2 separate regions of the Homo sapiens genome follow, and region 1 is linked to region 2. Evidence: fine-mapped expression QTL. A gene starts in region 2. The other region holds a variant in brackets. All regions are shown on one strand. Distances are from middle to middle.

Region 1 (4,390 bases), 66 kb after region 2:
TCCACATGTTTCCTGGCTGGTCCCAGGGACTCTCTTGCCTCTAGTAGGATGAATCCCAGAGATTTTTGGCTCCCAAATGGGACTCTGGTGCGCCTCCTGGGAGCTGGGACCCGCTGCACCCCTGTAGTTATGGGACTGGAAGACAGCTGCCAGGTCTTCGCCCGCAACATGGGGAGCACTGTCTCGATGCGTTCATCCTGACGGCTGGGCACTGACGGGCCAGGGAGCAGCTCTCTGAGCCTCAGCTCTCTCCATTTGATGATGCTGCCCCTTGGGTCTGTGCCCAAGGTGTCAGCCTCCAGATGCACCCAGACCCTTGCAGGCCAACCTCTGTCAGGACAGCCCCAGTCCTCAGATAGGGTTTGCTTAAATCTAAAGGGTGGGCAGGGCTCATGTCACCTTTTTCTGGATAGCTTCTACGCCTTGATTCAAAGCAGGGGCCGCAAATACCTAGGGGAGTGGGTGACTTAACTCCATTTACTAGAAGTGTCTGAGCCTGGACAAGCTGCCGCCACACTGCACATAACTTCAGCACAACTGCCTCCTTCAGCACCTCCCCCAGGATCCCGGGGCCCCTTTCCAGGACCTGGAGAAATAGGAGGACACGGCTGAGCCCCTGCTCACAGAGGGAGGGAGGGAGGGAGGAGGGGGCCCCCGGAGCTGAGATTCAGCCACTTGTTCTTTCCTCCTGCTTAGAACTCTGCTTCGTGGGCAGGAAGGGAGGCCTGGGATGGAGGCTGGCTCTGCCAGGGAGCCTGTAAGAGTGCAGACTCTGCCTTGCAAGTGATCAGTGTGAAGAGCTCGAGTCAAAAAGGATCCTTTATCCAATACACTCAGAGGCATTTTAGAAAGTCAAGAGGGTGCAGCCATGCCAGGGTAAGGACTAGGCTCCCAGCCTCCAGGGAAGACCCTGGAAGGCCTTGGTGGCTCCTCTCTGGTTCTCAGCAGACCCAAGGTTACCCAGGCAGAGCGGACATGCAGTCCCAGTCCCACACAGGGCTGAAAGCGGAGCGGAGAGGGAGAGAGCGGGACGGAAGCCCAAAGACCGAGGGCACTGTAAAGTCCTACTTCCAGCCCTGCCCAGCGGGGCCAGCTCCACCCCTGACTTCTCAGGGATGTGAGCCAAAGAAAGCCCTTTTGGCTTAAGCTGTTTCGAGACAAGTTCCTATCACTGAATGTGAAGGATCTCTTCTTTCCTAAGACACCGGACAGCTCTGATCTGTCCTTTGTAAGGAGTTCAGGCAGGGAGGGAAAGGGCCAGGGGCCGGACCAGAGAGAACGTGCAGTAAGGGACCCGGGTGGGCCAGGGCTGCCGGCCGGCCAGGGCAGCTCCACAGTCAGGGGCTGGGGGCTAAGCCGGGGCGTGTTGAGAGGGGGCGGCTTGGGGGTCGGTGATGGGAGGAAAACAGGGAACCCAGGACGCCCGGGTGGGGACTGACTCTCCATTGCAGGGCGTATGTTTTCTGGGCGCCTCTCGCCGTCCTGACCGCTGGGCTGGCAGAGATGGCGCTGTGTTGCTGGAAATGACGGCCTAAGGGAGGTGGGGGTGCACCTGGGGCCAGGTCGGGCTGTGCTGGCTGTTCCCCAAGACTCTACCTGAGTCTCCCGCCGCAGCCAACCCCAATCCTTCCCACGCCGGAGATCACTGCAGTGACCCACCCTTCGTTAAGTGTCAGGCCACTGGGTAAAAATCCCTGCAGCCCCTCGCTCGCTTCTCTTGGCTGGAGGCCGCGGGACGGGCTCGCTCCCCCCGCCGGGACCCAGATCGGGAACTGGCCCCCACGCCAGTCTGGCTGCGTCTGGGCCGCTTCC[C/T]GGGCTGCTCCGCCGGCCGGATGCTCCCGCTGAGACATTTATCCTCCGCGGAGCAGGGCCCTGGGGGGGCTGCCCCGCCTGCACTGGCCGCGGGTCTCTCCTTGGAGTTGGCTGGGGTACCCAGTGGGCCCGCAGCTCGGCTTTCTTGGCCGCAGATGCTGCAGGGGCCCTGCCTAGGACCCTTGAGTTCCAGCAGAGGCACCCAGACTGCTGAGCCAGAAGATTTGCGTTTCTTTTCTTTTTTTTTTTCTTTGAGACAGAGTCAGGCAGATCACGAGGTCAGGAGTTCGAGACCAGCCTGATCAACATGGTCAAAACCCTTCTCTGCTAAAAATACAAAAATTAGCTGGGTGTGGTGGCACGTGCCTATAATCCCAGCTACTCAGGAGGCTGAGGCAGGAGAATCTCTTGACCCCGAGAGGCGGAGGTTGCAGTGAGCTGAGATTGTACCATTGCACTCCAGCCTGGGTGACAAGAGTGAAACTCCATCTCAAAAAAAAAAAAAAAAAAGATGTTCTCTGTGTGCCACATCTTGCTGGTCACCCAGGTGTGTTGACCTGCCAGGAAACTACCCAAATGTGGTCACTTTAGCATCTATTCCTCCAGCTTAAACCAACATGCCACCCTCTGGGCTAACATCCTGTGCCCTGTGATGTGCTTTTTTAAACTTGCTTAGAAAGTGACAGTCCTCGGCCGGGCGCAGTGGCTCATGCCTGTAATCCCAGTACTTTGGGAGGCTGAGGCGGGCGGATCACGAGGTCAGGAGATCGAGACCATCCTGGCTAACATGGTGAAACCCCGTCTCTACGAAAAAACACAAAAAATTAGCCGGCACGGCAGCGTGTGCCTGTAGTCCCAGCTACTCGGGAGGCTGAGGCAGGAGAATGGCGTGAACCCGGGAGGCAGAGCTTGCAGTGAGCCGAGATCGCGCCACTGCACTCTAGCCTGGGCGACAGAGCCAGACTCCATCTCAAAAAAAATAAAAAATAAAAAAGAAAGTGACAGTCGTCATGAAAAGTCTTAAGTGAGTATGTCTATGAACACCACTGATGAAAGCCCTAGCAATCTCTCCAAGTGTGCCTGCTTGGAAACCACCTGGGAATCCAGGCTTGCTCTTCCAGATGTTCATTTTGAGGCCTGAGTTTTTCTGCCAACCTCCTCCAGGCCACAGAACGATTGGGGCAGTGATGCGGCTCACATCCTTGGGACAGGGGAGGAAGGACACACACTAGAGGCCACAGTGGCTGCTCAGTGACTTTCAGGGGTCGCCTGCTTTACCGCCCACCGAGAGCTCTTTTGGGAGATGAATATTTCCACCCGGTGTGCTCTCCTTCCAAGAAATCTTCAGCTTCCAGATATAAACAGCTTTGGGAAGGGGAGTGGGAGGAGAAGCAGCCTTTGGGAGACAATTGTTCCTCCACCCCTACATGGACTCCGGGCTGGGAAGATGAATGGACCTGCATACCCCACACATCATGAGTTTTGAGCAGCGACCAAGATCCAACTTTCCTGGAAGGAAATGTTCGCTTAAGCAGCATCTTGTAATTCATCTCTTGATTTACGCCGGGCATTTCAGTATGTTCCTCCTCCATCCCACTGATTAGATCCAGGCGCTGGGCCTGCCCAGAAACATGCTCTTGGTCTGAACTCCCCCTGCAGGAGCTCCCGGATGAGGCAACTGCGTTTAGTCTAGCTGGCCGCTGGTCTGCCTGGGTGGGTCAGGCTCAGTGTGCTTAATTTAGGTGGCTTCACCCTTTTATGCAACTCAGGAAAGTAACATTTACCAACTCTCCCTCTTTGCTTGTGGTCTCAGCTCTTTGCCTTCCAACAAAGACAGCAGCCAGAAAGATGCCTGCTTTGCCTGCAAAGATGACTTCATTCATGAACTGTGTGTAGCAGGCCACAGAGGAGTGTGACCCTCCTGCCCCTAAAGTACTCAGGGCTAGGGCCCACAGAGGGCTCTAGGCTGCAGAAGAATCAGCTGTGTCCCCCACCAGAATCTAGAGCTCCACCAGTCCCTTCGATGTCCTATGCAAGGCTGAAGATATTGGCTAAAGTGTTCAGCATATTCCAAGGATTTAATTTGAGGTTAAGTTTTTCCCAGCACCAGTGTCATTATAATTCTAGAATCTGAGAGATGGGTGTATGGCGATTCACTAAACCATCCTCTGGTTTTGCATATGTTTGAAATTTTCATAATTAAACAATTTAGAAAGTCATCTTGGGCCCATTGGCAGTATGTATCCCATTTTGGGAAAACTGGAGTGGTCAAACAAGAACATTTGGGGCAAATGGGATGCTTTGGCAGGTCCTAAGAGTGGGGAAGCTGAGGCAGCTGGTTCAGTGTATTGCTATGAACTCATGGAATATACACAGCAGAGCCAACCTAGAGACTGCCTGGAGGAAGCTTCAGAACTAAGCAGTTTTGCCTCTTGTGACAAAAGTATCCTTTGTACTCCCACGAGAACACATCGAATAAGTTAAACAGACTGAGATTGAGTCAGAGATTTTCCACCTAAATACTGGCATTATGCTTACACAAGTGTTCAGGATTCAAAGAAAGTCTTAAATTATAACT
Region 2 (4,390 bases):
GTGTAGAAAAGTTAAAGTATAGGCCTATTTACTATAATTTATAGATAATATATTCAGAATCTATAAATATCACTAACTTGAATGACTTTTTAAATGATTTTATTAGATAGCTTAGGAGGGAGAAAAATAGTTTACAAAAAATATTTTTTGCTCTTTAAAACTGCTGATCAACCATAGAGAATGATATAAAACAAGGGACTGTTTACTTGCCGTATCTTTAAATAGTCCAAGTTCATCTTTTATTTCAAGAAAAGTAAAGATTAAATGAGTGTCCATTCTCTAATAGTATATCATAGTTCTGTGGTTTGATGGCACAAACAAAGTGAAATACTTACCAAACATTATTGTCAAGAGGGCAATTGGCATCACAAACAATCCAACCAGCAAATCAGCCACCGCCAAGGACATTAGAAAGTAATTAGTAGCATACTGCAGCTTCTTCTCCAGTGAAACAGCCAGAATAACAAGGGTATTTCCACCAATTGTGGGTATTATCACCATGAGTATCAGAAGAGCTGCCCAGTGCAGTTTATTTCCCTGTTCCTCAACAATCTGTTTCATTTCCTCTGGTATTGATTCTGTCTGTAATCCAGACCAGTTAGAAGAGATAACGTGAACAAAGGTGCTCTGCAAAATGTGCTCAGGAATTGTGCTTTGAAGTTCAGACACTCTGTAAGAGAGAGCCATTTGCTGTTTTTCTGTGATTCAATCCCGTTCCGAACAGTGGTCAGCATGGTTAGTAGCTAAGCTGCTCATCTGTTTTTTTAAGGCATTGTAACCATGCCAAACACTCAAAAGCCAAAGTTGACACCTTCCTTTAAAAAAAAAAATTCAAGTTCTCTAAAATGAGCGCATACACACATCTGTCCATGTTTGTAGGTAAGATATCCAAGTATTTATTATTTTCTAGAGGCTTAAATTTAGGAAAGCTCAGTGAAAGAAACTGATAGCTGTGAAAAAAATAGGATATATATATATTTTTAGTTTCTCTCTCTCTCTTTTTCTGCCGTAGTTGTAGAGTCGTGTTTGAACTTGCATGCCAGAGAGTTCCCCCTAGATACAAAATACATAGACTGCATTATTTTATTCATTTCTGAAAGTGGTAAAAACACTTGAACTTCATAGCCCTTCCCTTCTTAGTAAGTCTGTTGTGCATTTGTGACAATGCAGCCAATTCTCCAAATATACTGTATTTCTGATGTTGCTCAGTTAATGAAACAGAAGACACATTAATTTTTTCAATGGTTATAATAAAAAGTTAGGTGTTTCCTGACCCTTGAATGTCTTTTTACCTTTACTTACAGAAGAATAGAAAAGTCGAAACACAATAGTTCAGAATAGAACTTTTAGTATGCGCTGGCCACCCACCTAGAAACACTCAAAGCCCAACAAGGGTCTAAATAAATGTTTTACCAGCTAGGGATCCTTATATGTAATTAGCTTTGTCTTATCAGGTTTGTGAGTACTGATATAAATGTCATTTTAGATTTCCTTTAGTTTGAGAGAAGGAAAAAAAAAGGTATTACTAGGATCCAAATAATTGTGTTTAGTAATTTCATCTCTCATGGTATGTCTTTGCAACAATTGTGTTCTAAATTTAATCACTAAATTTGCCAAATTCAAACCAGTTCTTTTTTTGTTTTAAGTAGTGTTTATTTTTTTAACCTTCCCAGTTGCCTTGAGAAGAAAGGGAAACCAAAAGGAAGATTAGACCATTTATTTGTTCATCAAATGTACAAATCACGTTTTTAAAAACTCTCCTTTAGCATTAGTAAATTTTTCATTTTGATTTTTAAACCGCTGAATAGAAATGAAAGATTATGATAGCAGAATTCTTGAAGATTAAAAAAAAAAACCTTTAGATTAATTCCATATGTGTTTATTAAATGCTTACCTCTGGTTTCGTTGTTATTTTGCTGAGCATGTCATCTTATCTGTTCACTAGACTTGCTTGCTGCTGTGACTGAAATCCTCCTCCCATTGACTTATTCTGAGCCTCCAGCACAGGCGGTTGAAAGCAGTGAAACAAATACGTTGTATAGCTGCAAGCATGCCAAGGAGGTTATTTCCTCTTTGATACATTCATTTTTAGAGAGTAGCAGCATTCATTGTAATTCATAAAACCACTGTTAAGCATGTTGAACCAGTTCATGGCCCTTATTCAAGTTATATTTTTAAGAGCTCTCTTTAATATTTGGGGGGACTGTAATAAACTTGATCATTTTAGCTTCAGATAGTTTTGTTTGGGGTTAAGCCTGAGCTGTTTTTCACATTTGAGAAAAAATAAGATATAATCTAGCTATTTTAGAGGTTTCATTCTTTGAAGATTCTGCCGTTTTAAAAGCCTATAGTGATTTCTACAGTTCTGATTTCTAGCAGTGAAACAAGATTCTTATCTAGCTTTTGTGCCTTTGCTGTGGAACACCATTAATTTGCTCTGGTTGCAACCTTATATAGAAGAGCACAGAAAGGCCTGAATTCTACATGTATACATAGGTTTTAGCAGAAACTTTTTTACTGCTTATTTTTAAACAGATGATCTCTGGGTTTAGGAGTGGTTCACAGCTTTTTTTCCCCATAGACTTTACGTTGGAGAAAATACAAGTAATGAAAATACGTTTTTGCCTTATTTCAGAAAATTGGTGTTTAAATCTTAATAGTTATGCTATTTAAGTTTTCTGTAACCATAAGACTAGCTTAGTATTAGAACCTCAGCATTCTCAAGGTTTCCTTTTAAAAGATCATTATAGATGCATATTTTAAAATTAATTACTTATAAATCAGTGATGACATTTGTGCCCTTTTCTTGTTTCAAATTTGTATTCCTTTGCTCATGTTGAATGTTATTGGAAAATACTTAGTTCATTTTAGCTCTGCTGAGCACTTCAGATTTTATTCAGTATTTGCTGCTTTTTTAAAAACTCAAAATTTACTATATTAGAAAAAATACTTGTGAAGAATTCTAGATGAAATAATATTCAAGAGAAATCAGATGTTTTTTAATGTACCAGAATTTCTATTCAGGAATATGAAAATATTTTAAGGCAAGGTGCGGTGGCTCATTCCTGTAATTCCAGCACTTTGGTAGACCAAGACAGGTGGATTGCTTGAGTCTAGAAGAGACCAGCTTGGGCAACATGGCAAAACCCCATCTCTACAAAAAAAACCACATAAATTAGCCAAGGGTGGTGGTTCACACCCGTAGTCCCAGCTACTGGGCGGCGGCGGAGGGGTTGAGGGTTAGGGGTCAGGGGAGACCTGAGGCAGGAGGATTGCATGAACCTGGGGGAGGTCGAGGCTGCAGTGAGCTGAGATCACACCACTGCGCTCCAGCTTGGGGTGACAGAATGAGATCTTGTCTCCAAGATTAAAAAAAAAAGAGGAAAAGAAATTATTTTTAAATACTGCTTAGTTGTGAGTTACACTTTGACATCTGTGCTTATGAAGGCAGGTAGGGATCTGCAAAACAAGTAATGTCAGATTGAAAATAGCAGCACCATTTTATATCCAGTGAAAAGACTTGTATGAAATAAGCCTTTATTGATTTGTTTATAGATAAAATTTTTTAAATATTAAGTATATTATAAAAATGCAGTCATTGTTGTATTTTGCCTGTATTAATCCTTTCACTCACATTCACTCATTTTTTGCCTCAACTTATAAAAAGTAAGATTGGTACTCTGATTTTTTTTATTTTTGCTTTTTTAAGTCTGTTTAATGTCTAAGGAACGTAACTAGTTAGAACAGCTACTTATTTGGCAATCTCAAGTTATGGGAAGCATAGCTGAGAATCAAGAAAAAAGCAAAATAATAATAAATAAATAATTATATAAAAGGATAGTTGAGTCTCAGCAAATAACTAAACCTGTGCTCTAAAACCCTAAGCACTTTAAGTAGAAAGTAGCCTCTAAGTCCCCACTCCATATCTTTTTACTCTTTACACACATACACGCACACACACGCACAGACGTATACACACACACAAAACTTTGCCTCTCCCCCTTCTTTAGTGAAAATAACATTTGTACATGGTGGTAGATGTAGATAGTACAAAAGAATGTTGAGTGATAAATTCATGTGAGACAATTTTAATAAACATGTTTCCCTGCCTACTCCAGATTTGAGTAACAAGTTAAAAGGTGGACAAGCACTTTGATAATAGCAAATAGGGTCAACTGAAACAGCAACAACAACAACAAAAAAAAAAAAAACAAGAATTTAAATGTATAAACATGTAGGTCTACTCAAAGTAGAGACTTGTACCTTTTTTTGTGTTTGTTTTTGTTTTGTTTTTTGAGACAGAGCCTTCCTCTGTCACCCAGGCTGGAGTGCAGTGGCACAATCTCAGCTCACTGCAACCTCTGCCTCCCAGGTTCAAGCAATTCTCCTG

What was found. PIP is the estimated chance that this variant, and not a neighbour inherited with it, causes the effect.
Region 1: its variant is the best candidate, but not a certain one, in a credible set for the expression of HTR2B in lung (TOPMed, PIP 0.81).

Annotation. Positions count from the first base shown.
Region 1 is chr2:231,189,158-231,193,547 of GRCh38, forward strand. No RefSeq gene overlaps it. Among named protein-coding and RNA genes, the nearest start is that of ARMC9, 7.3 kb to the right of the region's middle. RefSeq lists an enhancer at 2,352-3,232. The variant C/T (reference allele first, on the strand shown) is at 1,813.
Region 2 is chr2:231,123,078-231,127,467 of GRCh38, forward strand. HTR2B (5-hydroxytryptamine receptor 2B) reads right to left here and starts at 1,965. Exons shown (of 4, transcript NM_000867.5): 1 at 1,895-1,965; 2 at 336-1,053. The coding sequence starts at 687. The region is part of intron 16 of PSMD1 (proteasome 26S subunit, non-ATPase 1); the gene reads left to right.